Homo sapiens: one gene and its partners. Each later gene encodes a partner of the first gene's protein in a complex. Each region holds a gene or a part of one and is shown in the gene's direction. Other genes may lie near its edges.

Region 1 (7,337 bases):
TCTCTTACCAGTCATTCGAGATGACTTGCTTGTTGCAGATATTCAACATATGGAAGTCAGCTGTTTGGCATTTTAAGTATTATTTTATGTGATCCCACATAGGAGAGCTTAATATTTAAACAGTTTTATGCTTTAGTTGATTCAGAGTTCACATACTCTTTGGACCTTAGAGTATGAAAATTGATACATCTTTAATTATCCTGGTGTAGTCTAAAGAACCCAAATTTTATAGCCAAAGAGACTATCCTGATATTTTCCCTGGCTTTGTAAACTCGGATAGATTGCTTATTGTTTTTTGTTTGTTTGTTTGTTTTTTCTTGAGACAGTGTCGCTCTGTCGCCCAGGCTGGAGTGCAGTGTCGCAGTCTTGGCTCACTGCAACCTCAACCTCCAGGGATCAGGACCTCTCATCTCAGCCACCCGAGTAGCTGGCACTACAGGCACATGATACCACACCCCGTTAAGTTTTGCATCTTTTGTTTTGCCATGTTTCCTGGGCTGGTCTCAAAATCCTGGGCTCAAGTGATCCTCCTATCTTGGCCTCCCAAAGTGCTAGGATTACAGGCATGAGCCACCATGCCCAGCCCATTTTGGGTGTTTTGTGGTATTCTTGAAGTGTCTCCAAAATTTATATTTAGTTTTCTTATTGCCATTATATATATATATATATTTGGTTACTTAGTATCATAAGGAAAGAAGTTTATACTTTGACAGTAAGAATCCCAGGTAGCCTGGGTGTGGTGGCTCAGCACTTTGGCAGGCTTAGGTGGGAGGATCGTTTGAACCCAGAAGTTTGAAATCAGTCTGGGCAACATAGCAAGACCTGATATCTACAATAAACTTAAAAGTAATTAGCCAGGTGTGGTGGCATGTACCTGTAGTTGCAGCTACTACGGAAGCTGAGGTGGGAGGATCACTTGAACCCAGGATTCAAGGTTGCAGTGAGCTATGATTATGCCACTGAACTCCAGCCTGGGTTGACAGACCAAGATCCTGTCTCCTAAAAAAAAAAAAAAAAAAAAAAAGAATTCCAGGTGCTTAATCTGTATTTGTGTATGTATCTCTACATGAATTTATTATGCTACTATATATCTTTTTAATAGGAAGTTTTATATTCTAGTTTTTTCATTTACCTTGTTTGCTGCCACCCAATTTAGAGTTCCCTTCCCAAGAAGCAAGTATACAAGTGGGTGTTGCTGGAGGCTGGAGTTTGGTCTGATGTTGGCCTGAAATACTTTTCTCTCAGAGAGCAAGTTAGCCTTATATCTGACTACAAGTAGGACAAGGAGTGAATAGAGCAAGCAAGCACACCAGCGTTCCACTACTTTCCTTGAGTTTTTCAGCGCTCTGCTTTTTTTATTTTGGTATTTTTTTTTCTATTTTAATTTATTCTTTCTTTCTTCTTTTCTTCCTTCCTCCCTCCCTCCCTTCCTTCCGAGTTTCACTCTTGGTTGCCCAGGCTGGAGTGCAGTGGTGTGATCTCAGCTCACTGCATCCTCTGCCTCCCAGGTTCAAGCGATTCTCCTTCCTCAACCTCCCGAGTAGCTGGGATTACAAGCACCCGCCACCATGCCCAGCTAATTTTTGTATTTTTGGTAGATAATGGATTTTTGCCATGTTAGCCAGGCTTGTCTTGGACTCCTGGCCTCAAGTGATTTACTCACCCCGGCCTCCCAAAGTCCTTGGATTACAGGCATGAGCCACCTTGCCTGGCTGGATTTTTCATCTTTCTTTTAGCTCTTTATTTGGGAGTGTAAATTTGAAAAATAAAAGAGGTTTATGCAAAACAGGCAATGAAACAAGAAGAATTGGGTTTGGAGTTTTATATCTACTTCTATTGTTAAATTACAGTATAAGCCAACACAAGTTATTTCCACTGTAGGTTTTGGTATCCTTGTGTGTAAAATAAAATAAAAAGCTGATTAAGCTTTTCTCAGAGTATTTTATGAGATACCTTTTATAGTCCGGGATGTTAATGGGTGTCCTTTGAAAATAATGTTCTGTGGTTAAATCTGGAAAAACACGAGGTTAAGCAGAGTTTAATAGGCTATTTACTGTAAGTTTTAGACTCTTTGATGTATCATATGTATGTTCTTCAAACCTATTTGACCATGAAGCTTTTCACACACACACACACACACACACACACACACACTCACACACCCCTTCTCCTAGGAATCATGTTTGGTAGAAAAGTAGTTTGGAAAATTCTTCATTCTGATATATTTTCTCTTTATATGATGATTTAGTTGCTGATTATTTCAGGTTATTTTTTTTTCTGTTTTTTTTTTTTTTTTTGTCACAGGTATTATTCTCACTAAGGTTGGTTACTATACTATTCCATCTATGGATGACCTTGCTAAAATTACCAATGAAAAAGGAGAGTGCATTGTCTCTGATTTCACTATTGGTCGGAAAGGTAAGTGTGAGTTTAGCACTTAGTGATTAAGCCAGAGAGTTGCACCTTATTTTTGTAATTAGGGGAAGCTTTTGATAGCTGAATCTTCATTTTCCTACATTTGGGCCCACCTTGGCCTGAATCTTAAATACTTTGATTGATAAGTAACAAAACAAGAAAGACTGGAACCATGTAAATTTTTTTATTTTTATTTATTTTATTTTTTCTGTTGAGATGGGGTCTTGCTACATTGCCTGGCAGATCTCAACTCCTGGGGTCAAGCATTTCTCCTGCCTCAGCCTCCTGAGAAGCACAGAACCATATAATATTCTTTGGGCTTAGGTATACCTGTTTGGTGCTAGTAACTATTTGGGTCATTTTAATTTTCTGTAATTAAAGAAAATACTGGAAATACCAAGAACTTCTGAGAAAATTGAATAATAGGCAAGAGATGTATAACACTTAGCATGAACTTCATGTTATTATTACTGATAATTTTCTTGTGGGAAATGCCACTGTGCTATATTGTATTAAAAAGAGCTCAGGCATTTTAACCCATATGCCAGGCCAAGTGCGAAGGTTTGTTTATATAGCGTCATTATAGATAAATGGGAAGAGATTTAAGAAGGTTGTTTTGAGGCTAATGGGAGTTTTATAAAAATGCAGATGTTAGGCCTGTCGCAGTGACTCACACCTGTAATTCTAGCGCTTTGGGAGGCTGAGGTGAGAGGATCACTTGAGCTCAGGAGTTCTAGACCAGCCTGGGCAACATAGTGAGACCTCACCTTTACCAAAAGTAAAGAAAATGAGCCAGGCCTGATGATATGTGCTTGTAGTCTCAGCTACTTGGGAGGGTGAGGTGGGAGGATTGTTTCAGTTTAGGAGGTTCAGGCTGCAGTGAGACAGGACCACTGCACTTCAGTCTGGTCAACAGAACAAGACCTTGCCAAAAAAAAAAAGAAAAGAAAAGAAAAGAAAAATGCAGATTTTAAATCAGATAACAGTGTAATTGAAGTTACTCTCCCTAAGTCCCCATTCTTACCAGTCTAGGAATTGCTGAATTATTTAAAATACTAATACTTAAAACTGCTTTCTCCTTGTGATTGTTTAATCACTATAGTTGTAAAGTAGGTATTTGCCTTCATACAGAATGAATTTTTAACTATTTGCTCTGATTTATAGGTTATGGTTCAATCTATTTTGAAGGAGATGTGAATTTGACAAATCTAAATTTGGATGATATTGTGCATATCCGGAGGAAAGAAGTAGTTGTCTACTTAGATGATAACCAAAAACCACCTGTGGGTGAAGGGCTAAATAGGTAAGAGTTTATGTACATACAGAAAATTATCAGCTAAATCACAATTTTTTTTTCTGTAAACATAAATGTGTTTAGATGTATGCTTCTGTAGCTTGCTTTCCTTACTATAGAGTACATTTATTGTCTCTACTTTGATTTAAAAGTATAAATGGCAAAGAAATGCTATACTGTGATTTTGAACTCCTTTTCCCTGATTTTATTTTTTAATTCATTTTTTTACATTCCTTGGATTCGATTCTATTCTATTTTATTTCATTTCATTTCATTTTACTATTATTATTTTTTTTTTTTGAGATGGAGTTTTGCTCTTGTTGCCCAGGCTGGAGCGCAGTGGAATGATGTCAGTTCACTGCAACCTCCGACTCCCGGGTTCAAGCGATTCTCCTGCCTCAGCCTCCCAAGTAGCTGGGATTGTAGGCGCCCGCCACCATGCCTGGCTAATTTTTGTATTTTTAGTAGAGACAGAGTTTCACCATGTTGGCCAGGCTGGTCTTGAGCTCCTGATTTCAAGTGATCCTCCCACCTCAGCCTCCCAAAGTGCTGGGATTACAGGTGTGAGCCACGCTGCCCAGCCTCCCTGATTTTATTGGGTCCAACTGCTAATTTCAAAAACTCTTTTTAATAGTATTTTGCTTTATTCCTGTTTCTGCTGTGGCTATACTTAACTCTCTATTTTAGTGTGAGATCCTAGCTTCTAATATCTTAGTCAAGTGAAAGGGCTGTAGTGAAAATTATTTATCTTCATAACCTACCAACCCTGAATCAGGAAGAAATAGAAAATCTGAGCAGATCAATCGATCCTTTCCTTTCCTTTCCCCTTCCGCTTCTTTTCTTTTCCCTTTCTCTTCTTTCTTTCTTTTCTTTCTTTCTTCTTTTGAGACAGAGTTTCACTCCTTTGCCCAAGCTGGAGTGCAGTGGTATAGTCTCAGCTTACTGCAACCTCTGCCCCCTGGGTTCAAGCGATTCTCCTGCCTCAGCCTCCAGAGTAGCTGGGATTATAGGTGCCCGCCACCATGCTCAGCTAATTTTTGTATTTTTAGTAGAGACAGGGTTTTGCCATGTTGACCAGGCTGGTCTTGAACTCCTGACCTCAGGTGATCTGCCCACTTCGCCCTCCCAAAGTGCTGGGATTACAAGCATGAGCCACTGTGCCGGGCCAATAATTAGTAAAGAGATTGACTCAGTAATCACAAACTTGTCAAAAAAGAAAAACCTAGAATCAGATGGCCTCATTGGTGAATTCTACTAAGCGTTTAAAGAAATAACACCAGTCCTACTCAGACTCTTCCAAAAAATTGAAGAGAAGGGAATACTTTCACACTCATTCTATGAGGCAAGCGTTACCTTATTCAGTAACCAAAGACACTGCAAGGAAAGAAAACTACAGACCACTTGATGAGTATATTGATGAAAAAGTCATCAACAGAGCCCTAGGAAGCAGAATTTAACAGCGTATTGAAAGGATTACACATCATGGCCAAAAGATTTATTCTGGAATGCATGGATGGCTTAACATACAAAAGTCAGTGAAACATACCACTTTAACAAGATAAAGGAATATACCACATCATCATCATCATCATAATACAGAAAAAGTATTTACCAAAATCCAACACTCTTTCATAATAAAGGCACTCAAATACAGAAGGCTTTTCCTGTGAGACAAGGCAACACAAGGATGCCTGCTTTTGCCACTTTTCCCAAATATACTACTGCAAGTCCTGGTCAGAGCAATTAGGCAAGAAAAATAAAAGTTAATACAGTTTTGAAAAGTAGTAAAATTATCTCTGTTCTTTGATGACATCTTGTGTAGAAATCCCTAAAGATGCCACACAAAAAAACTTACTAGTTATAAACAAATTCAACAAAGTTACAGGATACAGAATCAACATGGAAAAATCAGTTGCACTGCTATACACTAACAACAAAAATTAAGAAAACATTTCATATATATAGTAGCATCAAAAAGAATAAAATATACACAAATAAACTTAACCAGGGAGGTAAATGACTTGTTTATACAAAACTGCAAAACATGGTTGAAAGAAAGTACACCAGACACAGATAAATGGAAGACAGACCATACTCATGAGTTAGAAAACTTCATATTGTTCAGCTAGGTGCAGTGGCTCGTGCCTGTAATCCCAGCACTTCGGGAGGCCTAGGCGGGCAGATCACTTGAGGTCAGGAGTTGAGACAAGTGAGCCTGGCCAACATGGTGAAACCCCACCTCTACTAAAAATACAAAAATTCGCCAGACGTGGTGGCGCATACCTGTAATCCCAGCTACTCCGGAGGCTGAGGCTAGAGAATGGCTTGAACCTGGGAGGCGGAGGTTGCAGATTACACCACTGCACTCCAGCCTGTGTGACAAAGCGAGACCACGTGTCAAAGAAAAAAACTTAATATTGTTAAAATGTCAGTACTGCCTACAGTGAAGCATAAATTTAATGCAGTCCCTATCAAAATCCCAGCGGCATGATTTGTAGAAATAGAAAAATCCATATAGAATTTCAGAAATCTCCAAATAGCCAAACACTCTCAAAAAAGAACAATTTGGAGGTCTCACATGTCCAAATTTCAAAACTTATTATAAATCTATAATAATCAAAACAGTATGGTAGTGGCATACAGACATAAATACCAATGGAATGTAATAGAGAGCCCAGAAATAAAACTTCATCTATATAGTCGAATGATTTTTGAGATAGGGTCTTGCTGTGTCACCCAGGCTTGAGTGTAGTGGTGTGATCATGACTCTCTGCAACCTCTGCCCCCAGGTTCAAGCTATTCTCCTGCCTCAGCCTCCTAAATAGCTGGGACCACAGAGATGCACCACCACGCCCGGCTAATTTTTGTATTTTTTGTAGAGATGAGGTTTTGCCTTGTTGCCTGCCCAGCCGGTCTCAAACTCCTGAGGTGAAGTGTTTGGCCTGCCTTGGCCTCCCAAAGTGTTGGGATTATAGGTGTAAACCACCACGCCCAGTCTTAAATGATTTTCAGTAAGGTATAAAAATTACTCGGGGGCAGGGTGGTGTGGAGCACACATAAAAAAAACTAAAAAAAAAAAAAATTATTTGATCGGGAGAAGACAGTCTCTTCAACAAAGGATGCTGGCAAACTGGATATCCACATACAAAAGAGTGAAGTTATGCCATATACAAAGATTAACCCAAAATGGATAAAATACCTAAGTGTGAGATCCAAAAATTTACAACTCTTAGAAGAAAACACAGAGGAAAAGCTTCATAACATTGGTTTTGGCAATGATTTCTCAGATATAACATCAAAAAGTATAAGCACCAAAAGCAAAAATAGACAAATGACACTATATCAAACTGAAAACCTTCTGCACAGCAAAAGACAAGTGAAAAGGCAACCTATAAGAATAGGAGAAAATATATGCCAATCATATTTGATAAGGGGTTCATAGCCAGAATATAAAGAATCCTGCAATTCAACAGCAACAACAAAAATAATAACCCATTTAAAAAATGAGCAAAGAAGATGGGTGCAGTGGCTTATGCCTGTAATCCCAGCACTTTGGGAGGCAGAGAAGTGAGGATTGCTTGAGGCCAGGAGTTCAAGAAAATAGGAAGACCCTGTATCTACAAAAAAA
Region 2 (7,337 bases), on another chromosome or scaffold:
CTAGGTCAATAAATACTTGTTGACTAGTCAGCAGGGAGCTGTGACAGCTGCAGCAGCACCCTCTCTAAAAAGCAGTTTGTCATTGGTTCTAGAAACTGCATTTCCTGGTCTTAGAAAAAGAACAGAGGCCATTGTCTCTGTACTCTGTCTACTGGGAGTTGGTTTTGAGAGAGAGAGATAACATCTGGAAGAAATGCATTGTTCTTGGCTTTTTTGTGGTTTGACTCCGTCACGCTGTATCATAAGGACTTGGTATTGAAGTGTTCTTTCTTGGGGTATCCAGATTAATTTTTTTTTTTTTTTCTTGAGACGGAGTCTTGCTCCGTCACCCAGGCTGGAATGCAGTGGTGCGATCTTGGCTTACTGCAACCTCCGCCTTCCGGGTTCAAGGAATTCTCCTGTCTCAGCCTCCCAGGTAGCTGGGATTATAGGTGCCTGCCACCACGCCCAGCTAATTTTTGTATTTTTCGTAGAGATGGGGTTTCACCTTGTTGGTCAGGCTGGTCTCGAACTCCTGACCTCAGGTGATCCACCCACCTCGGCCTCCCAAAGTGCTGGGATTACAGGTGTGAGCCACCACGCTTGGCCCAGATTAATCTTTTGACTTCATGAACAACTTCAGCTTGATAGATGCCTCCTTTTTCCAAGCACCTCCTACATCTGTGAAATTTGTTGCCTAGTGCCAGACTGCCCACATGCTTGGAGCTTTGAGCCTAGGAGGGGCAGGTTTGTGGCTACTCTTGCTGTGGCATGGTGGTTTTGGACCCCTAAGGCTCCAAACACACTTAAAGGCTCACCTGTCTTTGAGAATGGTTGATTCCCCAGGGTATAACCTTTATGTCACCTGCCTTTTAGGCCCTAGTTAGGCAGCAGTTCTTGAATTGTAGCTCTGAAAATCCCACCATCCTCTTTCCCCAAAGGAAACCTATCTGGCTCTCTGTCTCACCTGTCTACCTATACAAAAGAAAAGAAAAAAAAAGAGAAAGAAACCTAAGTCCAGGATGTTGGTCACCCATTCATTCTCTTAATGGCATTAGTGGAACGCTTCCAGGCATTGAGATGCAGCAGTGAATAAGGCAGATAAGATCTTTGATCGCATAGAGAGTGCCCTATGATGGAGGAGGTAAATTATAAACAAATTTAGCAATAAAAAATATGGTTTCAGATAGTGATAATTTGCTGTGAAGGAAATAATTAAAGTGCTGTGGTAATGAACACATGAGATAGAAGTAGTCAGGGTGGCCTTCTCTGAGTGGTGATGTCCCAGCTGAGAGCTGAATGTGTGAAGAAGCCTTCCAGGTGGAGCCCGTGGAGGAGAGAAGTCTAGGCAGATGGACTTGCAAGTGCAAAGTTCCAGCAGTGGAAAAGAGCTTGATATGTTCATGAAAGAGGCAAGCAGGGTTGGACTAGAGTGAGCACAGATGGGACTGATACTACATCAGTTGGACCAGATCCTGTGGGGTCTTTGGACCATGTTGAAGAGCTTGGTTTGCGTTTCCCGGGCACTGGGAAGCCTTTCAAGGATTCTAAGCAGAGGGAGGACAGAGTCTCAAAGAGGAGGTGAACCTGGGCTTGATTCTGACCATATCTAAGGGTTGACAGAAGAACAGCAGGGCCTTCAAGCCCTATTTTACTTTATTTTTTAGGGAACAGGATCTCACTATGTTGATCAGGTTGGAGTGCAGTGGTGCAATCATGGCTCACTGCAGCCTCAACCTCCAGGGCTCACGTGATCTTCCCACCTCAGCCTCCCAAGTAACTAGGACTACAGGCATGCACCACCATACCCAGCTAATTAAACATTTTTTGTTGTTGTTGAGATAGGGTCTCATCATGTTGCCCAGACTATAAGCCCTATTTTATTTTATTTATTTATTTAAGACGGAGTCTCTCTCTGTCGCCAGGCTGGAGTGCAGTGGTGCGATCTCGGCTCACTGCAGCCTCCGCTTCCTGGGTTCAAGCAATTCTCCTGCCTCAGCCTCCCGAGTAGCTGGGACTACAGGTGCGCGCCACCATGCCTGGCTAATTTTTGTATTTTTAGTAGAGACAGGGTTCCACCGTGTTGGCCAGGATGGTCTTGATCTCCTGACCTCGTGATCCGCCCACCTCAGCCTCCCAAAGTGTTAGGATTACAGGCATGAGCCACCACGCCCGGCCTATATAAGCCCTATTTTAAATCAGGGAGACTGTTTTACCAATGACTAATTGCCTAGCAGAGGACCCCATGTTTCTTGGCCTCTAAAATCTGGAAAATTTTCCCAGCTGAAACCTTTTTCTGTTCCTTTGCAGGCAGATATAATGCACCTGACTGACTCTGTGGTGCGTCGCCAGCTCTTTCTTGACGTGCTTGATGGAACCAAAGCATTAGTAAGTGTGTCTGGGAGATTTTACATTTCTCCCAGGGAGGTTGTCTTTGAAGTCAAATAGCAGAGGTCATGAGTCTGCCAGCCAGCCGCACAAATAGTCAGGTCACAGGGCTCACGTTGGCCTGGGAGGCCTGAGACTGTAGTGGGTCAGCAGAGCTCTGCTGCTGCCATGCCAACCCTGGCTTCTCCCCCTCCACTCCACTCCTGTGAGCTCACTGCTGGGGAAGAAAGGCAATGAGGCCGGAGGTGCCCTGTGGATGGCATGCGAATCTTTCCACTGACTTCTGACTGGTGTGCTGTCTCCTTTCAGCTCCTAGTTCCAGCCTCAGTGAACTGCCTTCGCCTTGGCTCCATGAAGTGCACTCTGCTGCTTATCCTCCTCCGGCAGTGGAAGAGGTGAGGCTGTGCCAGGAGAGGCAAGCCCGAGGCCAGAGCCTTCTTGTCAGTGCCTGCTTGCCTTCCTGAAAGGGAGAAATAGTGGGTGGAAGCTGGGCTGGTTTTCCATCTTGAGGAATGGGAGTGACATAGCAGATAGGAGGGTGAGGCAGACTGGTGGATATCCTGAGATGGAGCAGGGGCAGTGTGTGGCCTTTTATGAGGTATTTTGTCTCACTCCCCACCCCGTATTCTTTTTTTTTTTTTTTTTTGAGACGGAGTCTCACTCTGTCGCCCAGGCTGGAGTGCAGTGGCGCGATCTCGGCTCACTGCAACCTCCACCTCCCAGGTTCAAGTGATTCTCGTGCCTCAACCTCCCTAGTAGCTGGGATTACGGGTGCGCGCTACCATGCCTAATTTTTGTATTTTTAGTAGAGACAGGGTTTCACCATGTTGGCCAGGCTGGTCTCGAACTCCTGACCTCAGGTGATCCACCCGCCTTGGCCTCCCAAAGTGCTAGGATTACAGGCATGAGCCACCACGCCTGGCCCACCCAGTATTCTTTCTAGAGAGTTAGGTTCTGTGGATGAAATCCTTGGACCCTTGACGGAGATCCTGGAGGGAGTGCTGCAGGCCGACCAGCAACTCATGGAGAAGACCAAGGCCAAGGTGTTCTCAGCATTCATCACAGTGTTGCAAATGAAGGAGATGAAAGGTGAGGGGCAGAGGCAGGGGGAGCAGCAGCTGCAGTCTGCCCACTCCTGCTGACAGCCAGGCAGGGCTTCCTTCAGCTTAGGGCCACACATTTCTTCTGGGACTTTTGAGTTTCCAGTCATGGAATTCTTACCCCAAGAAAGCTATTTTTTTCCCTCATGTGTCTCTCCCTCCTCTCCCACTGGACAGATGCTGTCCCTCCTAGCGCCCTAGTACATCTCCAGCCCCTTCCTAGGAAGGAAACCTTGGTGTACAGTGAGAGTTGGCCTGGTGAGCATGACAGTGTCCCTCCCTGTCTATTCTACAGTAAGTGACATCCCCCAGTACTCCCAGCTGGTGCTGAATGTCTGTGAGACCCTCCAAGAGGAAGTGATTGCACTCTTCGACCAGACCCGCCACAGTCTGGCATTAGGCAGTGCCACAGAGGACAAGGACAGCATGGAGACTGACGACTGTTCTCGGTCCCGGCACAGGGACCAGCGTGATGGGGTGAGACAGTGCCCTAGAAGGCCATCCGTCCTTTCCACTGCCCGCCAGCTCTGTGCCTGACTCTGGGGATAAGTAGTGATCAAGACAGATAGTCGCTGCACTTCTGGAGTTCACGGCCTGGTGGGAAAGGTTAATAGATCAGACACTGCAGAAAAGCAGAAGCAGCCCATTGTACTGCAGGAGAGAAGTGCAGGGAGAACTTAGTCTCACTTCTGACTTGAACTGGGACTTAGGTGCCTTTTCAGCAATGACTTAGAGATTGTAGCCGCGGGCAAATGCAGGATCCGAAGTGAAATAGGAAATGATGTAAGGCTTTTAAGCAGGGGAAAAAGTTGATCTGATTTTTACTCTAGAAAGATCACTCTGGACTTAAACTCCAGGCCTCAAGCCATCCTCCCAGTTCAGCCTTCCAAAGTGTTGGGATTACAGGCGTGCCCAAGAAAGATCACTCTGGATGCAGTATTGAATAGTATTTTTCAAATTGTGGGATCATGACCTATTAGAGAGAGTCTTGAAATTAGCACATTTTGTTACAACCAGTCTCGCTCTGTCGCCCAGGGTGGAGTGCAGTGGTGCGATCTTGGCTCACTGCAAGCTCTGCTTCCCAGATTCACGCCATTCTCCCACCTCAGCCACCCGAGTAGCTGGGGCTACAGGTGTCTGCCACCACGCCCGGCTAACTTTTTGTATTTTTCATAGAGACGGGGTTTCACTGTGTTAGCCAGGATGGCCTCGATCTCCTGACCTCGTAATCCGCCCGCCTTGATCTCCCAAAGTGCTGGGATTACAGGCGTGAGCCACCACGCCTGGCCACAACCAGCATTTTTTTAAAATAAAGTAGAATAAAGTGTTTAAGAAAATATCACTGTGCTTTGTGTGACATTAGGGTAGGTATTATTAGTGAAAAACTGTAAACGTGTACATGAGGATACAGTCTAAAAAGTCTTTATGGGCCGGGCACGGTGGCTAACGCCTGTAATCCCAGCACTTTGGGAGGCCGAGGCGGGCAGATCATGAGGTCAGGAGATGGAGACCATCCTGGCTAACACGGTGAAACCCTGTCTCTATGAAAAATACAAAAAATTAGCCGGGCGTGGTGGCGGGCACCTGTAGTCCCAGCTACTCGGGAGGCTGAGGCAGGAGGATGGCGTGAACCCAGGAGCGGAGGTTGCAGTGAGCCGAGATCGCGCCGCTGCACTCCAGCCTGGGGGACAGAGCGAGGCTCCATCTCAAAAAAAATGTCTTTATGACTCTGGGTCATGGCCAAAAAGAAGGTTGAAAGGCCACTGGTACAAGGATAGATTAGAGAGGATGGAGCAGGATTATTTAGGAGATGGTTGCAGTAGCAGAGCAGGAGGTGGCATCGGGCAGGGTCGTAGGGGTCCCTCAGACTCCATGTGGCAGAGTTGGTTGGAGTGTCCAACATGAGACGAGGTGGCTCTGACAAGGGTGGTGGCAGTGTGGGAGGTGGGAGGGAAGAGGCGGGGGTAGCTCTGGTCAGTTTAGGGTTGCTCATTAGATTGGCTGGAGTTGCTGCTGTTCATTGAGAGCTGGACATAGGAGAGGGGCAGGGTGGGAGAGAGTGTGCATTCTGTGTTACTCAAGCTCACTTAGCAATGTGTGTAACCAAGCAGGTCTTGGGCAACCAGGCCCACCGCTGCCTGTCGTCCTCTTCCTCCTCCTCTTCTTCTTCCCCCTTTTACTCATCTTTGCCTCTGGGCAGGTGTGTGTCCTGGGCCTGCACCTGGCCAAGGAGCTGTGTGAGGTAGACGAGGATGGTGACTCCTGGCTGCAGGTAACCCGCAGGCTCCCCATCCTACCCACCCTCCTCACCACTCTAGAGGTGAGCCTTCGCATGAAGCAGAACCTGCATTTCACTGAGGCCACATTGCATCTGCTCCTCACCCTGGCTCGCACTCAGCAGGTAGGAGGCCAGCCCGAAGGCAGGAGGGAGCGTCCTTGCTTGCCTGGGTGGGTTCTGACAATCCCAGAAGCTGTGATCTAGCCTGAGAGCCCTACCTACCCTAGGCAGGGCAGGGGCAGGCTCCATCTCATTTCCTGTCTTTCCCTCCTCCCAGGGAGCCACAGCAGTGGCTGGAGCTGGCATCACCCAGAGCATTTGTTTGCCCCTTCTGAGTGTGTACCAGCTGAGCACCAACGGCACAGCACAGGTGAGTGTCAGGAGCTTGCCAGGAGGCCCAGCCTGACCACCCTACAGTTCCAGTTGAAAAGTGTCCTCCCCTACCTTTCCCCGGAAGTTGCTTTCCTCTAAATTGCCTAATACACTGATGGTGAGGAATCTTCCCTGCCCCCAGGCGGATCTCTAGCAAGAGAAACTCACCACTAAAAGGCACCGCCTGGCCTTTGTGCACTACCTCTGGGAGATGGGATGGATTCTTCCCATTGCAGGTGTGAGGAAGACTAAACCAGATTGATAACACATCCCTGGACCAGGCCTCTAGCCAAGGCAGCTGTCCTCTCCTGTCATTCCCAAAGACAGTGTGTCATTGTGACTTCTCCACCCCTGCACCACCAGACCAGGACTGGGAGAAGGGAAGTGGGTGGTCTGGGGGCTTGATGGGGCCTCAGCACCCTGCCCTCTGTGTCCCTTGGTTATTTCTAGTTTAACAGATACCTCCTAATTTCAAAAGAGTAGTCTTCACCTGAACCTCTCTCTCTCATGAGAGTCGTGAAGTATTTGGTCATCTAGCCCAGCTACCCCTTAGAGGAAGTATGTAGGGGCCAGAGCAGGGCAGTGACATGTCCAGGTTCGCATAGCTCGTCAGTGGCAGACCTGAGTCTGGAACCCTGGGTCTTGTGTCTCAGCCTGGTGCTCTTTCCTTGAATCTGCTGGTGTTGGCCCCTTTCTGGCCCTGGTGGCCAGACAGTGGCTGTGTCTATTCTGGGAGATCTTTTCCTTTCAGCGCAGCTGGGCTGCCTTAGTTGCTGTACTACAAGGAGGTCCTGCCTCTCAGCAGGGTTCCTGAGCTTGTCTGCTGTTTGTATCTTAGACACCTAGTGCCTCTCGGAAGTCCCTGGATGCCCCCTCTTGGCCAGGAGTCTACCGCCTGTCCATGTCCCTGATGGAGCAGCTGCTCAAAACTCTGCGCTACAACTTCCTGCCTGAGGCCCTGGACTTCGTGGGTGTCCACCAGGAGCGGACCTTACAGGTGAGGGGCTGCCTGCATTGCAGGGGTGGGAGTTTCAGGGTAAAAAAGGTACTGGGCCATTCATGGGGCAGGTGGGTGTGGAGCCTGGGCCTCAGTAGCGGAGGGTTGTCGATGCCTTCATTTTTGAGATGCTCTAAGTACTCTGCTGGCTCACTGGCCAGCTAGTCTGCTGAAGGACGGGAACGGTCTCGGGTCAGAATCCTGGTTGTACCACTAAGCCATT
Region 3 (7,337 bases), on another chromosome or scaffold:
ACGCCTAGCTAATTTTTTGTGTTTTTAGTAGAGACGGGGGTTTCACCATGTTAGCCAGGATGGTCTCAATCTCCTGACTTCGTGATCCACCCGCCTCGGCCTCCCAAAGTGCTGGGATTACAGGCGTGAGCCAACACGCCTGGTCTGGAGGCCAGATTTTTCAAGTCTTCTGTAAAAGAGTAAGCCCGCAAGGAGAAAATGTGTGAGGATTAATGTCTTGAAACAACTCAGACAGATATTTCATCTTCTTACTTATAAGTTGTAGCTAAATAAAGTGTACTCAGTGGACAGAGTGTAGACCCCTAGAACGGTGAGAGGATGGGATGGGGGGTAGATGATGAGAAATTAATTAATGGGCACAATGTACATTATTTGGGTGATGAATATACTAAAAGCCCAAACTTCACTGCCAGGCAACATATCCATGTAACAAAATTGCACTGGTAATCCTTAAATTTATACAAATTAAACAAAAATAATAGCAAGCTTTATCTACTTTGTAATTAGCTTTCAAACTCTTGATTGCAAACCAAAAGTCAGGAATAAACCTTTTATATTGTGAGCCATCACCTGCACAGCGTATATGTCTATATGATTGAAATCTGTTTTGCAAAATAATACTTGCCTCTGGTAGGTGTAAGGTTCCCTGGTATTTTCTGTTTTATTTTATTTTAAAAGAGAAGTGCTGGTTGCAGCCTGCTAAATTAATTGATGATTAATGGTATACAACTAGCAGTTTGAAAAACACTGCATTTAAGTGTTTTAGAAGTTTGTGCTTTCTGGTTCATTTTATCTCTTTCTGTAGCTGTTAATTCATGCTCCCCTTTTTATACTGTTCTCTACCTGTAGTGTGGTAATCACCATACTTTTAAGTATCTTAGTACTTCTTAATGATCCTTGTTTTGAGCCAGTAGGTCAAGTACTTCATTTCTGATTTCCTTAGCTGCAGAAAAGCATTATGAAACCAAGACTTTGATCTTGTCAGTATAATGCTTGCTCTCTTCTCTTTTCTCTTCTCTCCTCTCTCTTCTCTCCTGTCTTCTCTCTTCTCTCCTCTCCCCTCTCCCCTCTCCCCTCCCTTCTCCCCTCCCCTCTCCCCTCTTGTCTCCCCTCCCCTCTCGTCTCCCGTCTCCTCTGCTCTCCTCTGTTTTCTTTTCTTTATTTATTTTGAAGTGGAGTCTCACTGTTGACCGGGCTGGAGTGCTGTGGCGCAATCTTGGCTCACTGCAACTTCTACCTCCCGGGCTCAAGCAATTCTCCTGCCTCAGCCTCTCAAGCAGCTGAGACTACAGGCACAGACCACCATGCCTGGCTGATTTTTTTTGTATTTTTAGTAGAGATGGGGTTTCGCCATGTTGGCCAGGCTGGTCTTGAACTCCTGACCTCGGGTGATCTGCCCGCCTTGGCCTCCCAAAGTGCTGGGATTCCAAGCGTGAGCTACCACGCCCAGTCTGATGTTTAACTTTATAAACATTGCTTCAACTCTGTAATTCTTCTGTTTTTCTGTTGCCTTCCTTTTTTAAATGCTTGAGTGAATAACACATTTATTCACAAGATTTAAAAATCAAGAAATTGTGACAAGGTTCAATCTCTTCTCTCCATTGTCTCTTTTTCCACCTTCCCTCCCACTTCCAAATGTAACTGTGGTTAGTTTCTTGTAAATCTTTCAAAGTTTCTTTATGCCCATCCAAGGCAAACATACATACCCCTATATATTCTTACTTCCTTTTACCTTGTTAGAAAAGTCTGTATACCGCACTCCCTTTCTGCCCCTTTGATTTTATCAGGGATTATCTTGGACACATCTTTGTTCTTCCTTCTTCGTTTATAGCTGCCTGGATTGCATATGGCATTTTGCATGTCTATGAGTTTATCTTTAAAACAAACTCCAGCTATAGAATTGCAAGGTCAAAGGGTATATGCATTTGTAATTTTCGGTAACTATTGACAGATTGCTCTCTATGAGTTTTGTGTTCATTTATACACCCACCTGCAATGTGTAGCCTGTTACTTCCAGTCTCATCACTAGTACAAACTTTATCAAACTTTATCGCAGCCAGTCTGATAAATGAAAAGTGGCTTGTCAGGATAGTTGTGAGGATTGAGATATCATTCTCATACCGACTAAATATAGGTCACCTTGGATTATGTTTACAGCTGCTGGTAATACTCTTCAAAGTAGGCCCTTTCAAAGTTACTCCTATGTTTCTTTGGCTTTCACAGTGTTTACATTTTGTTTGAGAGGATCAGTACATTGAGTGTCTATGTGGTGTCTTTTATATTTTTGTAGGCTTTGACACATCTTCCTCATCTTCGAACTCAGCAGCCTCCTCATCCTTCAAATTTGGTGTCTCATCATCCTCTTCTGGGCCTTCTCAGACTTTAACAAGCACTGGAAATTTTAAATTTGGAGATCAGGGAGGATTCAAAATAGGTGTGTCATCCGATTCTGGGTCTATAAACCCCATGAGTGAAGGCTTTAAATTTTCTAAACCAATAGGAGATTTTAAATTTGGAGTTTCATCTGAATCTAAGCCCGAAGAAGTTAAAAAAGATAGTAAGAATGATAATTTTAAGTTTGGACTTTCTTCTGGTTTAAGCAACCCAGTTTCTTTAACTCCATTTCAATTTGGGGTATCTAATCTTGGACAGGAAGAAAAGAAAGAGGAACTGCCCAAATCTTCCTCTGCAGGTTTTAGCTTTGGTACAGGTGTTATTAACTCCACCCCTGCTCCTGCTAACACCATAGTGACCTCTGAGAACAAGAGCAGCTTCAACCTTGGAACCATAGAAACCAAGAGTGCTTCAGTGGCTCCTTTCACATGTAAGACATCAGAAGCTAAAAAAGAAGAAATGCCTGCCACCAAAGGAGGATTCTCTTTTGGCAACGTGGAGCCTGCCTCTCTGCCATCTGCCTCAGTGTTTGTTTTGGGAAGGACAGAAGAGAAACAGCAAGAGCCTGTCACTTCTACTTCCCTAGTTTTTGGGAAGAAAGCTGACAATGAAGAGCCAAAGTGTCAACCAGTGTTTTCCTTTGGGAATTCAGAGCAAACCAAAGATGAGAATTCTTCAAAGTCCACATTTAGTTTTAGTATGACAAAACCATCTGAGAAGGAATCTGAACAGCCAGCAAAAGCCACTTTTGCCTTTGGAGCTCAAACTAGTACTACAGCTGGTAAGTATTAACTTTTTATTATTATTATTATTATTTTTTTTTTTACAAGTTGTCGTTTTACAAGTTGCCTTGACAGATGCAGCAAGTCAATTAATGGTTTACACTGAACATAGTTGAGAAATACAGAACTCTTTGGGAAGGAACCTAGGATTTTCAGTTTGAACTGCTCTTTAAAACCCTCATGATTCTGGTGAAGTCATCTGTGGATCTAATTTTGAGAAATACAGCAGTAATGCAAAGCTCAATATAGTGCATATTTATGTGTGTCTTTCTCTTCTGTTTGGGCTTTTATAATCAGAATTGGTATCTACTACCTGGAAAATAAGGATTCTTAGCTTATGAAGTATTTTCTACCATAATCTATGGGAAGGCCTTTATTTACAAATAGTTACAGATAACCAGTCCTCATCAAACATTAAGAAACATAGACAACAAATATAATTAATCCTGAGAAAACAAGAGATTTTGAAAGCTGAAGTCCTGGGGAAAAAAATGACATAGCACCTTAAAGGTTAAAAGCATGATTGTTGGTGGATCCTATTAAAGTCATTCTGTGAGCTGAATAGCAGGAAGAACTTCATAGCTGATAATCAGATTAGTGAACTAGAATTTCCCCAAACTTAGTGCACCAGTACAAAGAGTGATCCAAGTTAGATCCACAAGTTCCTTTGGGATAGGAGTGGCCTAGAAGATAAGAAGTTTTGGGGAAATATCAAAGAAGTGACAGAAGAAAATTTTCTAGATCTAAAGAAAGACATTGGTCTTAAAAATGGAAATTACCTATTGGCAAAGATCACTGAAATTTAGGACACCAAAGCTAAAACCCCAAATGCTTTCAGAGAGAAAAGCTATTTGCCACAAATAGGCAGGTATCAGATTAGCATCATCTTCTAATTTGTAACATCACATGCTAAAAACAACAGTGCCCTTAAAGTGAAAATGTTCTTGAACCTAGAATTCTGTTACTAGCCAAATGTGTTTAAATATAAAGACAATCCGGGTGCCGTAGCTCACACCTATAATCCCAACTAGTCGGGAGGCTGAAGCACAAGAATCTCTTGAACCTGGGAGGCGGAGGTGGCAGTGAGCAGAGATTGGCCCAGTGCACTCCAGCTTGGGCAACAGAACAAGGCTCTGTCTCAAGAAAACCCAACAACAACAAAAAAACACCAACACAAAGGCAAAATACAGATGTTTTTAGATGTGCAAAAAATGCAAAAGTTGAATATCCATGAATACTTTTGAATAATAAATTGGAAACACTCAAAATTAACCTTTAAAAAGTATGGAATTCAACAAATAGCTATGAGCAGTTTTTTGTCTGTTATATATTTACTTAGAAATATAAAGACAAAATCAAAACTAAAATTACATATTATTTGGAAAGCAACAAAAACATGATAGGGTCTAATCAGATTTGATGATGAAAACACCAGGCTATGGTAGACACTCTTAACCATTCTTCCATTAGCCAGGTTGAAAGTAAGCCAACATGTTCCATTTTCTGTAAGTCATACTAATGCCCATAGTGTACTGTGACCAGCCCTGGATAGTGTGCGGTATTGGAACTGAGAGATTATTGGAATAGTTTAGAAAAAAATCTTCAATAAGGTGGCTGGATTCAGAATCACCATATAAAAATCAAAAGTTTTTCTTCAAATCAGCATGTCTCATTTGTTTTTCCTAACATTTCTAACTTGTATTTTATAAAAGCAGCAGAACTTGTAACATGCCAAATAACTAAAAGAACACAAAAGGCATACTTGTTGCTGGGTGAAGGTATTCCCTTCCTCCTCCCATAATTTTAGTTCTTAGGGGAATTTTTGTAGAGCTTGACAAGCTAAACTTATTCTAAAATTCACATGGAAAGGAAACCACACAAGAAATTTTGGGAAGAAGGGCAGGCACACAGGCAGCTTTGTCCTACTAATATCAGTCCATGGTATAAAGTTATAATAATTAAAACAGTCTAGTGATAACAGTAGAGGAAACAAGTATATGCATTTTAGGAAATGTAGTGTGTGATAAAGACAGCATTGCAAATTAGTGCACAAAGGCTGTACTAGTTGATGCTGTGGAGAAACTTGGCTATCCATTTAGATAAATTGAAGTTATGATTTTGCCACATACTGTAATATAAATTGCAAAATAAAACATATAAAAGTACAGCTGTCTTCCACTATCTAAGCTTGCTATTCAACTACAGTATCCAGTTAGATTTGGATTCGAGGTGTATTTTTATTAACCTGAATGCCAAAGGCCTTCCTATGAAAGGCCTAAAATCCATAAGCTATAAAAGAAGATGAATGTATTTGACTTTGTCAAAATCTAATATAAACAGATGTCCATTTGATGAAGTAATCTATATAAAAAATCTATTTTCTAGCGAATTCTAGGGTAGGAAAATTCTAGCAATTGTAGGGTAGGAAAAAGTACTTTCTGAGACTATTCTTAAGGATTTATGTTTGTTTCTTAATTTCTGTCTTACAGATCAAGGTGCAGCAAAGCCAGTTTTTAGTTTCTTGAACAACAGTTCCTCTAGTTCAAGTACACCAGCCACTTCTGCTGGTGGTGGCATATTTGGTAGTTCCACCTCTTCCTCCAATCCACCTGTGGCTACCTTTGTGTTTGGACAGTCCAGCAATCCTGTGAGCAGCTCTGCCTTTGGTAACACTGCTGAATCCAGCACCTCTCAGTCTTTGCTATTTTCTCAAGATAGCAAACTAGCAACCACATCCAGCACAGGTACAGCTGTCACCCCATTTGTCTTTGGTCCAGGAGCCAGCAGTAATAATACTACCACCTCTGGTTTCGGCTTTGGAGCCACAACCACATCTAGCTCTGCAGGTACATTTACAAAAGAAAAAATGCATTGTAATTGGATGGACTTTACTTATTAGTGTGTCAGTTCTTAGCGAATATCATATAGCAGGTTATCACAAAATGGTGGGAATGCCTTTTGGTCATCTATACCAGGGTTGTTTTAATTATTCACTGTATGGAATAATGTACACTCTCTGTGTTCAACTTTAACATATTTACCTCTTGGGAGCAATTTTTCTAATTGTGGTAAGAGTGTAATACTTAATTTTTCTAAGCTTTGTTTTTTGTTTTTGTTTTCTTTCGAGACGGAGTCTTGCTCTGTCACCCAGGCTGGAGTGCAGTGGTGCAATCTCAGCTCACTGCAACCTGCCTCTCCCGAGTTCAAGCAATTCTCCTGCCTCAGCCTCCTGAGTAGCTGGGATTACAGGTGCCCGCCACCACACCCACCTAATTTTTGTATTTTTAGTAGAGATGGGGTTTTACCATGTTGGCCAGGCTCGAATTCCTGACCTCATGATTTGCCCGCCTCGGCCTTTCAAAGTGCTGAGATTACAGGTGTGAGCCACTGTGCCTGGCCCCAAGCTTTGTTTTTAAAATGTTAGGTTGTCAGTAACCAGACACTGGAAGTTGTTTTATTAAACATCAGTCTTTATTATGCAATGTATATATGCACATCATGAGGCAATTTCTGCACACATTAAATTTCTGGTGGGAGATTATTCTGAGATATGTTCCTTTACCAGAAATTGTCGGCTGTAAAGGTGTGGAGTAGTTGTTAATTGCAGTTTTTGTTTATATGAATTTAGTATGTTTCACTAAATAATGGTAGAGAGCGTTGTATTCTCAATCATTATTTAAAACTTGTCTTGATGGAATTTGGTTAGCAAGGTAAGAGTCTGAAACGAAGCTTGACATTTGCTTGTGGGTTTACAGAAATTTCTTGAGGATAATCTGACATTAGCCACCATGGTGACTTAAGTGTTTCTTTGGGCCTCCAGGATCCTCCTTTGTATTTGGAACTGGACCCTCAGCACCATCTGCCAGTCCAGCATTTGGTGCTAACCAGACCCCAACATTTGGACAAAGTCAAGGTGCCAGCCAGCCCAATCCCCCAGGCTTTGGATCTATATCATCTTCCACAGCATTATTTCCCACTGGTTCTCAGCCTGCACCACCTACTTTTGGGACAGTGTCAAGCAGTAGCCAGCCCCCTGTGTTTGGACAGCAACCTAGTCAGTCTGCATTTGGCTCTGGAACAACTCCTAATTCTAGTAAGTGTGCTGTGATGCTGTTAGTATCTGTATGGGTTTTGTGTGTCTTAAAATATTTTCCTTTGAGC
Region 4 (7,337 bases), on another chromosome or scaffold:
AGGCTGCCCCAAATTAATACATGGAGTCTCATATTTAGAGCCTAAAGTGCTGTGGTTTCCAAATCCACTGTGCACCTTACCTCAGATTGTGACTCAGGTAGCTTAGTCTTTCTTTGGTTGCTAGTTGTTAATACTGTTTTCCTAGAAATTAAAACAGAATATTCTGAAATGGGCTTCACAGCTTTCTTTTTGCTACACACACAGTGCATTGTTTAAAAATGAAAGGGCCACAAGGCTTTTATCCCAGTTAGAAAGGTGCATCGTGAACATTTCAACTGGGGAATTTTAGTTCATCGATCATCAAGACTTTTTATGTTTTTAGGAGGCTGATAATGTTTTCTTTGACTCTTAACGGTTTTCCTATATATGGTTCTTTATCCTGAGATTATATCCCCATTGATTTGGAAATCTGACCTTTGAAAATTCCACCTGTAATCCCAGCAGTTTGGGAGGCTGAGGTGGGAGGATCACTTGAGCCCAAAAGTTCAAGACCAACCTGGGCAACATAGTGAGACCCCATCTCTAAAAGAAAAAAGGAAAATCACACCTAATTCAGACACTGGGTACAGTGGCTCACGCCTGTAATCCCAGCACTTTGGGAGGCCAAGGAAGACAGATCACTTGAGTCCAGGAGTTTGAAACCAGCCTGGATAACATGGCAAAAACCCGTCTCTACAAAAAAAAATAATGCAAAAATAAGCCAGGCACGTTGGTGCACACCTGTAGTCCCAGCTCCTCGGGAGACTGAGGTGGGAGGATCAATTGAGCCTGGGAGGCAGAGATTGCAGTGAGCCAAGATTATGCCACTGCACTTCATCCTGGGCAACAAAGCAAGACTCTGTCTCAAAAAAAAGAAAGAAAATCTGACCCTTTTATTTGTCTAGTCTTAGAGAAAATGTATGCCCCAACTTTTCATAGTAAGTACTTATTTGCCCCATGAAACTAATACTTAGATTGAGGCCTCGAATAGAGAACAACTATCTTTCAGATACATAAGATGAGTGAACTAGTAACCATAAACATCAAAGTGAGGGCAGGGGAAAGGCCACTCCCCCTCATGTTTCAGGACTTCATCTCTCTGCTGCAGAACTCGTATTGGTTCTGGGAGAGCTTTTTCTATTGAAAGAGGGGACTGGAAGTCCCGAGCAGAAGGAAGGGCTGCTGTGAATAGAGGAACTGCCTTCCTGTCCAGGCATCAGGGCACTTTTTGCTTTAAGAGAGATTTTAAGTTGATGATTTGGATGGGTCTTTGAAAAATTCCAAAAGTATCTATCCTCCCTTCAGTAAAATTGCATTATAAAATTATCCTGCTGGAGGTCATCCGGGGAGAGGACAGGAGGAAGGTGGGATGGACTGAAGATGGCCTTGCTGCCCACCATGGTCAGTGGTCTACACCCTGCTGTCTCGCTAAAGTGTTAGATTTGGAGGGAGGCAGGCAGGGGATGAATGATGGGGAAGATGAGAGGTGGGCGTTTGAGTCGCACAGACCTTGTTCCAGTCCCAGCTCTAGCACCCATCAGCTGGCTGAAGTTGGGACAAGTGGCATATTCTCTAAGTCTCAGTTTCCTCCCCTGTGATGTAAGGATCCCAGGCTTATTGGGAAGATTTAAGAAAACTGCTGTGAAGCACCTGGCATATAGTGGGCCCTCAATAAATCAGAAAGTTTATCATCATTGATTATTAGAAAATTTGTTTCTTCTGGAGAAGAAATTTATGAAAATACGGCAACTGATAAAATCAAACCCCTCCTGCCATCAGGAGAGAGTTGCCTCTTTAAGCCAGAGTGACTGTTTTCTTCCTGTTTAATTTGGCTGTGACCCAGGTGTGTTGTTTGGGGGCTTTTTCTCTCTGTGTATATTTAACCGCCACCCCTCCCCTGTCCAGTTTATTTTCTGTATCATCATGACTTCCCATTTTTCACTCACCTTCCACCAAGAAGTCTAAGCAATATTGATACAAGGTACTAGATAGCGCCCTGCATGTCTAGGAAGAAAGTGTAACTAGATCTGTGATCAGTCTTAAATAATTCAACTGTAAGGGTTTTTTAGCACTTTTTTTTTTCCAGTCTGTTATATTTATAACCCAACAGTCTCCATTATCATGGCTTGGAATTTCACTCAGTGTTTTAACATGCGGAATGTTAACCCAAACACGAGCCTTAGCAAAAAAGTATCTTCTCAGTTGTGCAGCCTACCACTGTTAATGGCAAATAGGCACATGAGTGAATCACAAAATAACAGTTAACTGAGGGATTCAGCTGACAACTTTTCATACCCAGGATTTGATCTTTCCTGATTCAGATGGCAGAAGCTTGTGTTGTGATTACATAAACAATAAGAAGTCTGGATTTCATCCCTCTAACAACAGATTGACTTTCTGAAAGGGGAGAAAAGGCTTGTCGCTAGGCCACCATTACTCCCGCTAGCACGCAGTTCATAGGCCAACACTCACCTTAAGAAGTACTCCCTTTAGAGGGTGCTCCCAGTTAGAGCACATTTCTTATGCCATTCTATTCCATTCATTCAAGAAGACACTCACTGAGTGTCTATTCTAATACTTTAGAATGATTTCAGCAGTATCTTGGAAGTTTGGGAACCCGCATCAGGAATAGCTCAGGAGAGGATGTTTTGTCTTCCTGCCTGACAGGCATCACCAGCAATCAGAGTAGGGTGCCCTGTGCGTGACCTGACCCTTGTCTGTGTGGCCACCTGTGTGGTGCTGCCCTCTGGCAGCCTGAGCCCACTGGGCAGCAGTGTTGGCAACGTTGCAGAAGGCATCTGAACTCTAGGGCTGTCCTCACTGTTGACTTATTATTTTATTAGATTTATGCAGCAGCCTGCCTCCAAAGAAGAAATTTGGTGTGTTTTTTCATTGGGAAGTAATTCCAGACTGCAGGAAAAAAGCATTTAAAAAAAAAAAAACAAACCTCCACTGAGCGAGAGAAAGGGAGACTCTGATGAGAGACGTAGGAGCCATCAGGCTGTAAATAAATAAAAAGCACCTGGCTGGGCGCCAGCATACACGTCTCTGTCTCTGCTATGACCCAATTCAGGGATTCTCCCTGAGAGGAGGTTTTGAGCCTCTGATTTTATAATTTGGGTTTCTATGAAGCTGGATGTCTTGCCTGTGTACTGATAAGTAATATAGTCTGTCATCTTTTGTCAGCTAGGTAGGGATTGGAGTTTTTGAGAATGGTTTTTCACTCCAAACAGCTCAGAGGACCTGGGAGGGGTGGAAGGTGCACCGAGTGGGCTCTTGGAGGTCTGCTCACACGGCTTCACAGTGACTTCACAGGGTCTGCAGGAGCTCTCCTGAGTGGACCCCAGAGCCCTCTGCTAGGAATGGAGGGGAGTGGTTTGGTTTGAGGGCTTTTGTTTTGTTGTTTTCATTACTATTTTCTTGATAGAAGGGCGGGGGGGAGGGGGGGTGTTGCCCTTTACTCTAGTTCTTGCATTTGAATTGCTAACATCCTCTTTTCCCTTTTTTCTTCCTATTTTGATTTGGTTTCTCATTGCTCAATGTCTTCTCTTCCTGTCTCCTCCTTTCTTTCTCCCTATTTCTGTTTGTTTGCCTCTGTTTTGCTCAGGTGGCTTCGGTGCTGCTCCAGTGTTTGGCAGCCCTCCTACTTTTGGGGGATCCCCTGGGTTTGGAGGGGTGCCAGCATTCGGTTCAGCCCCAGCCTTTACAAGCCCTCTGGGCTCGACGGGAGGCAAAGTGTTCGGAGAGGGCACTGCAGCTGCCAGCGCAGGAGGATTCGGGTAAGCCCCCTGGGGAGGGCCCTTGGGAACCCACACGCCAGCCAAAAAGCACTAGGGGCCTGTACTCTTGCTCTGAAAAGAAATTTGACCATGAGGTGAAGGCCCCTCCCTTGAAATTTGTGAACAACTCCCTCAAGGATTCCTGTACCTCTCCAGGGTAAGACTCATTTCGTTCAAGCCAGGCTTTGTTGAATTCATGGTGGACCTCAGCTGTGTTGCTGTTCCCTGGTATGAGAAATGCTGGTCATCAGAGCCCCTGTTCTCCTGCTGGGGCTAAAGGAAGGCACCAGCCCTGCCTTAACTACTGCTTTGTAGCCAAGAGGTGCCCCGGTGTGGAGCTTCTGTTAGGAAGTCCTCAATGAATGGTTTTCACCAGATTCTTTCCTCTTGGGATTATTCTGTGTTAGACCCGTTGTCCTTGAACAAACAACTCCCTGTGTCCCCTGCTCCCCTGCAGCCCCCCAGAGTGAGTATTCAGTTGCACAGGTCCTCCCGTGGGAAGATCCTGGATGATCAGGGATTTCGAAGCTGCTCTCATTGCCTCGTGTGCGTCTGCACTGGAAAAGGCCATTTTTAGGGAGTCGCTTTTAAGGGCAGAATTTCAGTGTGGTTGCCAAAACCCCAAGGGAAAAAAACCTTCACCACACCACAACATCCCAATTTAAAAAATGTACACGGGATGACTACCAAGTCTCTTGTTCAAAGGAGGTGTCGATGCCTGAAAGGAGTTCTAAAACGCCTCTTGCCGCAGTACTGGGCTCAGCATGAGCTGAAGGTTTGGGGGAGGGGAGATGATTTTGTCTAGGGGAATTGTTGAGATACTTGGATCTGAGTCTTGGCAAGATGACAGCATCTTTATCTTGAAAATAAACTATAGTATGTTCTTACTCACACCCTTCCCCTCCGTGCAAGATGCTGGAGCGCAGCAGCAGGAGTGAGAGGGTTGGCGTGCTGCTTCTCCTGTTTCACGGGAGACTGATGCCTTAGGTTTGCCCTCAGGAAACCCCAAGAATTAAAGTTAAGGAAAGCTTTGAAAGGACAGTTAGAGACCCACTTAGGCTGGTATTCTCAGAGGTCTTAATGGATGCTGTTCTCTGCAGTGATGAACCAGCACACAGTACCACAGAGTTGGTAGAAGGTTTGGGTTGGCTGGGTATCTTGTGAATTGATTTATTTATTTGAAACCAGCTGTTTTCTTTACTAGTAGAAAAGTATATTCTGCCTTGGGGCGGCTCTCACACAAATCCCGATTGGCTGGTTAGTCAGTCCTAAAAAAGGTTAATGCCAGGTCAGTTATTAAATCTCCATAAGAGCCCATTACCTTCTTCCAGGTCCCTGGCCATGAGCCTGTCTCCGACCCTGAAGGGCAGGCTGTTGCTGATGAGGCCCAAGGCAGGAGGAGGAAGGGAGCAGGCCGCTCCTGGGAGAAAGTCCAATGAGAGCAGATCCCTTGGCCACCTTTGTATGGAAAGAGCCTTGACCTCACCATTAAAAGTGAATAGAATGGTGGGAAGGCAGAGTTTTAGATACTTTTTCTTGCTTTGGGGTTGATTCTTGCCCCCAGGTGCTGCCCCTTCTCCCAGAAACCACTGATCCGTTTCCCTCACCTAGTCACCTCCAGACCCCAGAAGCTCTCCCCAACCCAGCCGAGTTCCTCTGCAAACAATTCAAGGGGCTCTGATAGGTCACACAGTGCCACCTTGTGTGCTGGACCATATCTGGAGGGAGAACTGAGTGAGGGGGCACAGGGGATTGTCTCCAGGTGGGGCGAGCAGGGGAAGGAAAATAGTGGCCACTTTTACATTGGTTTGGGTAGTAATTATTGATTCAGGAAGCAAATACAAAATCCTGAATGAAATGACTTGGAAAAAGTAAATAGAATCAAGATCCCAAGAGGAGCTGAAGATAAATAAATGGGAGCAGGATGTGGGGGAATGGTCGGTAAGTGAGAAATGCTAAAATGATAGAATAAAGCTTAAGGATTGTTGGAGGTAGAGCAGGAACTGTGTACTGCATAGTTCCCAAATGCCCTGGTGTTCCAATGGGGGATGGAAACTAAAACACTGGCCAGGTTGGATTTCATACTGTAGTCCTGCCATTTTTCTTCCTAGAGCAGAGATAAAAGTTGGCCCTGGGCGATAGCTCATTCTCTCTGAAAGGCTGCTAGTTAGGCCCAGCCTGTCACCCTGGATCATGAGTGTCGTGTGTATTGGGACTTACAGCAGGGGGCTGAGGCTTGCAGATGGGCAAGTGGTGAGAGGCCCCACTGACCTCAGTCTGTTTCTCACTGGAGCGCAGGTTTGGGAGCAGCAGCAACACCACATCCTTCGGCACGCTCGCGAGTCAGAATGCCCCCACTTTCGGATCACTGTCCCAACAGACTTCTGGTTTTGGGACCCAGAGTAGCGGATTCTCTGGTTTTGGATCAGGCACAGGAGGTAAGCTGCCACAAGTTCTCCCCTCACAAGCAAAATGGGTCCCTCTTGCCTTCTCCCCCAAAGAAATGAGTATGTTTTACCTGACCAGTCTGTTTAGTATTTTAAAAGCTGACTGGGCACGTGGTTCACGCCTGTAATCCCAGCACTTTGGGAGACCAAGGCAGGAGGATCACTTGAGCCCAGGAGTTTGAGACTAGCCTGGGCAACATGGCAAGACTCCATTCTCTACAAAAAATGTTAAAATTCGCCAGACATGGTGGCACACACCTGTGGTCCCAGCTACTCGGGAGGCTGAAGCAGGAGGATCACTTGAGCGCTGCAGTGAGCTGTGATTGCACCACTGCACTCCAGCCTGGGTGACAGAATGAGACCCTGTCTCAAAATAAATAAATATGTAACATACTGAAAGTGGTTGAAACATATATATATATATATATTTTTGAGACGGAGTCTCGCTCTGTTGCCCAGGATGGAGTGCAGTGGCACAATCTCGGCTCACTATAAACTCCGCCTCCCGGGTTCACGCCATTCTCCTGCCTCAGCCTTTGAGTAGCTGGGTCTACAGGCGCCCGCCACCAGGCCCGGCTAATTTTTTGTGTTTTTAGTAGAGATGGGGTTTCACTGTGTTAGCCAGGATGGTCTCCATCTCCTGACCTCATGATCCACCCACCTCGGCCTCCCAGAGTGCTGGGATTACAGCACCTGGCATATATATTTTTTTTTAGGTTTTAGTTAGACTTAGAACACTGTGTCATTTCTTACCAAAGAAATTACTGTCTTGATTTCCTCTCAGGATTTGAGAAGCCCAAAATAATAATGGTCTTACTAGGCCTTGGTTTAAAAAATCTAAGCCAGCAGACTCAAAAAAAAAAAAAAAGGCATAGAAACTTCACAAAACATCTTGCATTTGTTTAACACTCTGCTTCTTCAGATGGCAGAATATGTGTCTTCCATTTTGTTCTTGCAGTAAACTGACAAGGCACAGAATTTAGGTATCATTACAATTGTACCCGTGAAGAAACAGAAACTCCAAGGAACTAAGTGTTAGCAGTTAGCAGTAGAACCAGGCCTAGAATCCAGCCATCTTGCTTCTCTGGCCCCCAAAAAGAAGAGGAAGCAAATGGATGGAAAAACAACAACA

What was found.
Region 2: NUP98 (region 1) and NUP188 share a complex: the UniProt entries of both Homo sapiens proteins name them as parts of the nuclear pore complex.
Region 3: NUP98 (region 1) and NUP153 share a complex: the UniProt entries of both Homo sapiens proteins name them as parts of the nuclear pore complex.
Region 4: NUP98 (region 1) and NUP214 share a complex: the UniProt entries of both Homo sapiens proteins name them as parts of the nuclear pore complex.

The regions. Positions count from the first base shown.
Region 1 is NC_000011.10:3,715,793-3,723,129, reverse strand, and holds part of NUP98 (nuclear pore complex protein Nup98-Nup96 isoform 1 precursor), read left to right. Parts: intron 1-2,304; coding exon 2,305-2,418; intron 2,419-3,579; coding exon 3,580-3,718; intron 3,719-7,337. UniProt on the Homo sapiens protein: Plays a role in the nuclear pore complex (NPC) assembly and/or maintenance. NUP98 and NUP96 are involved in the bidirectional transport across the NPC. May anchor NUP153 and TPR to the NPC.
Region 2 is NC_000009.12:128,995,862-129,003,198, forward strand, and holds part of NUP188 (nucleoporin NUP188), read left to right. Parts: intron 1-1,002; exon of another isoform or gene 1,003-2,289; coding exon 2,290-2,367; exon of another isoform or gene 2,368-2,676; coding exon 2,677-2,762; exon of another isoform or gene 2,763-2,827; intron 2,828-3,310; coding exon 3,311-3,456; intron 3,457-3,762; coding exon 3,763-3,944; intron 3,945-5,667; coding exon 5,668-5,868; intron 5,869-6,022; coding exon 6,023-6,115; intron 6,116-6,955; coding exon 6,956-7,114; intron 7,115-7,337. UniProt on the Homo sapiens protein: Component of the nuclear pore complex (NPC), a complex required for the trafficking across the nuclear envelope. Required for proper protein transport into the nucleus.
Region 3 is NC_000006.12:17,624,493-17,631,829, reverse strand, and holds part of NUP153 (nuclear pore complex protein Nup153), read left to right. Parts: intron 1-2,290; coding exon 2,291-3,175; intron 3,176-5,665; coding exon 5,666-6,022; intron 6,023-6,996; coding exon 6,997-7,269; intron 7,270-7,337. UniProt on the Homo sapiens protein: Component of the nuclear pore complex (NPC), a complex required for the trafficking across the nuclear envelope. Functions as a scaffolding element in the nuclear phase of the NPC essential for normal nucleocytoplasmic transport of proteins and mRNAs.
Region 4 is NC_000009.12:131,224,574-131,231,910, forward strand, and holds part of NUP214 (nuclear pore complex protein Nup214), read left to right. Parts: intron 1-3,586; coding exon 3,587-3,758; intron 3,759-6,056; coding exon 6,057-6,196; intron 6,197-7,337. UniProt on the Homo sapiens protein: Part of the nuclear pore complex. Has a critical role in nucleocytoplasmic transport.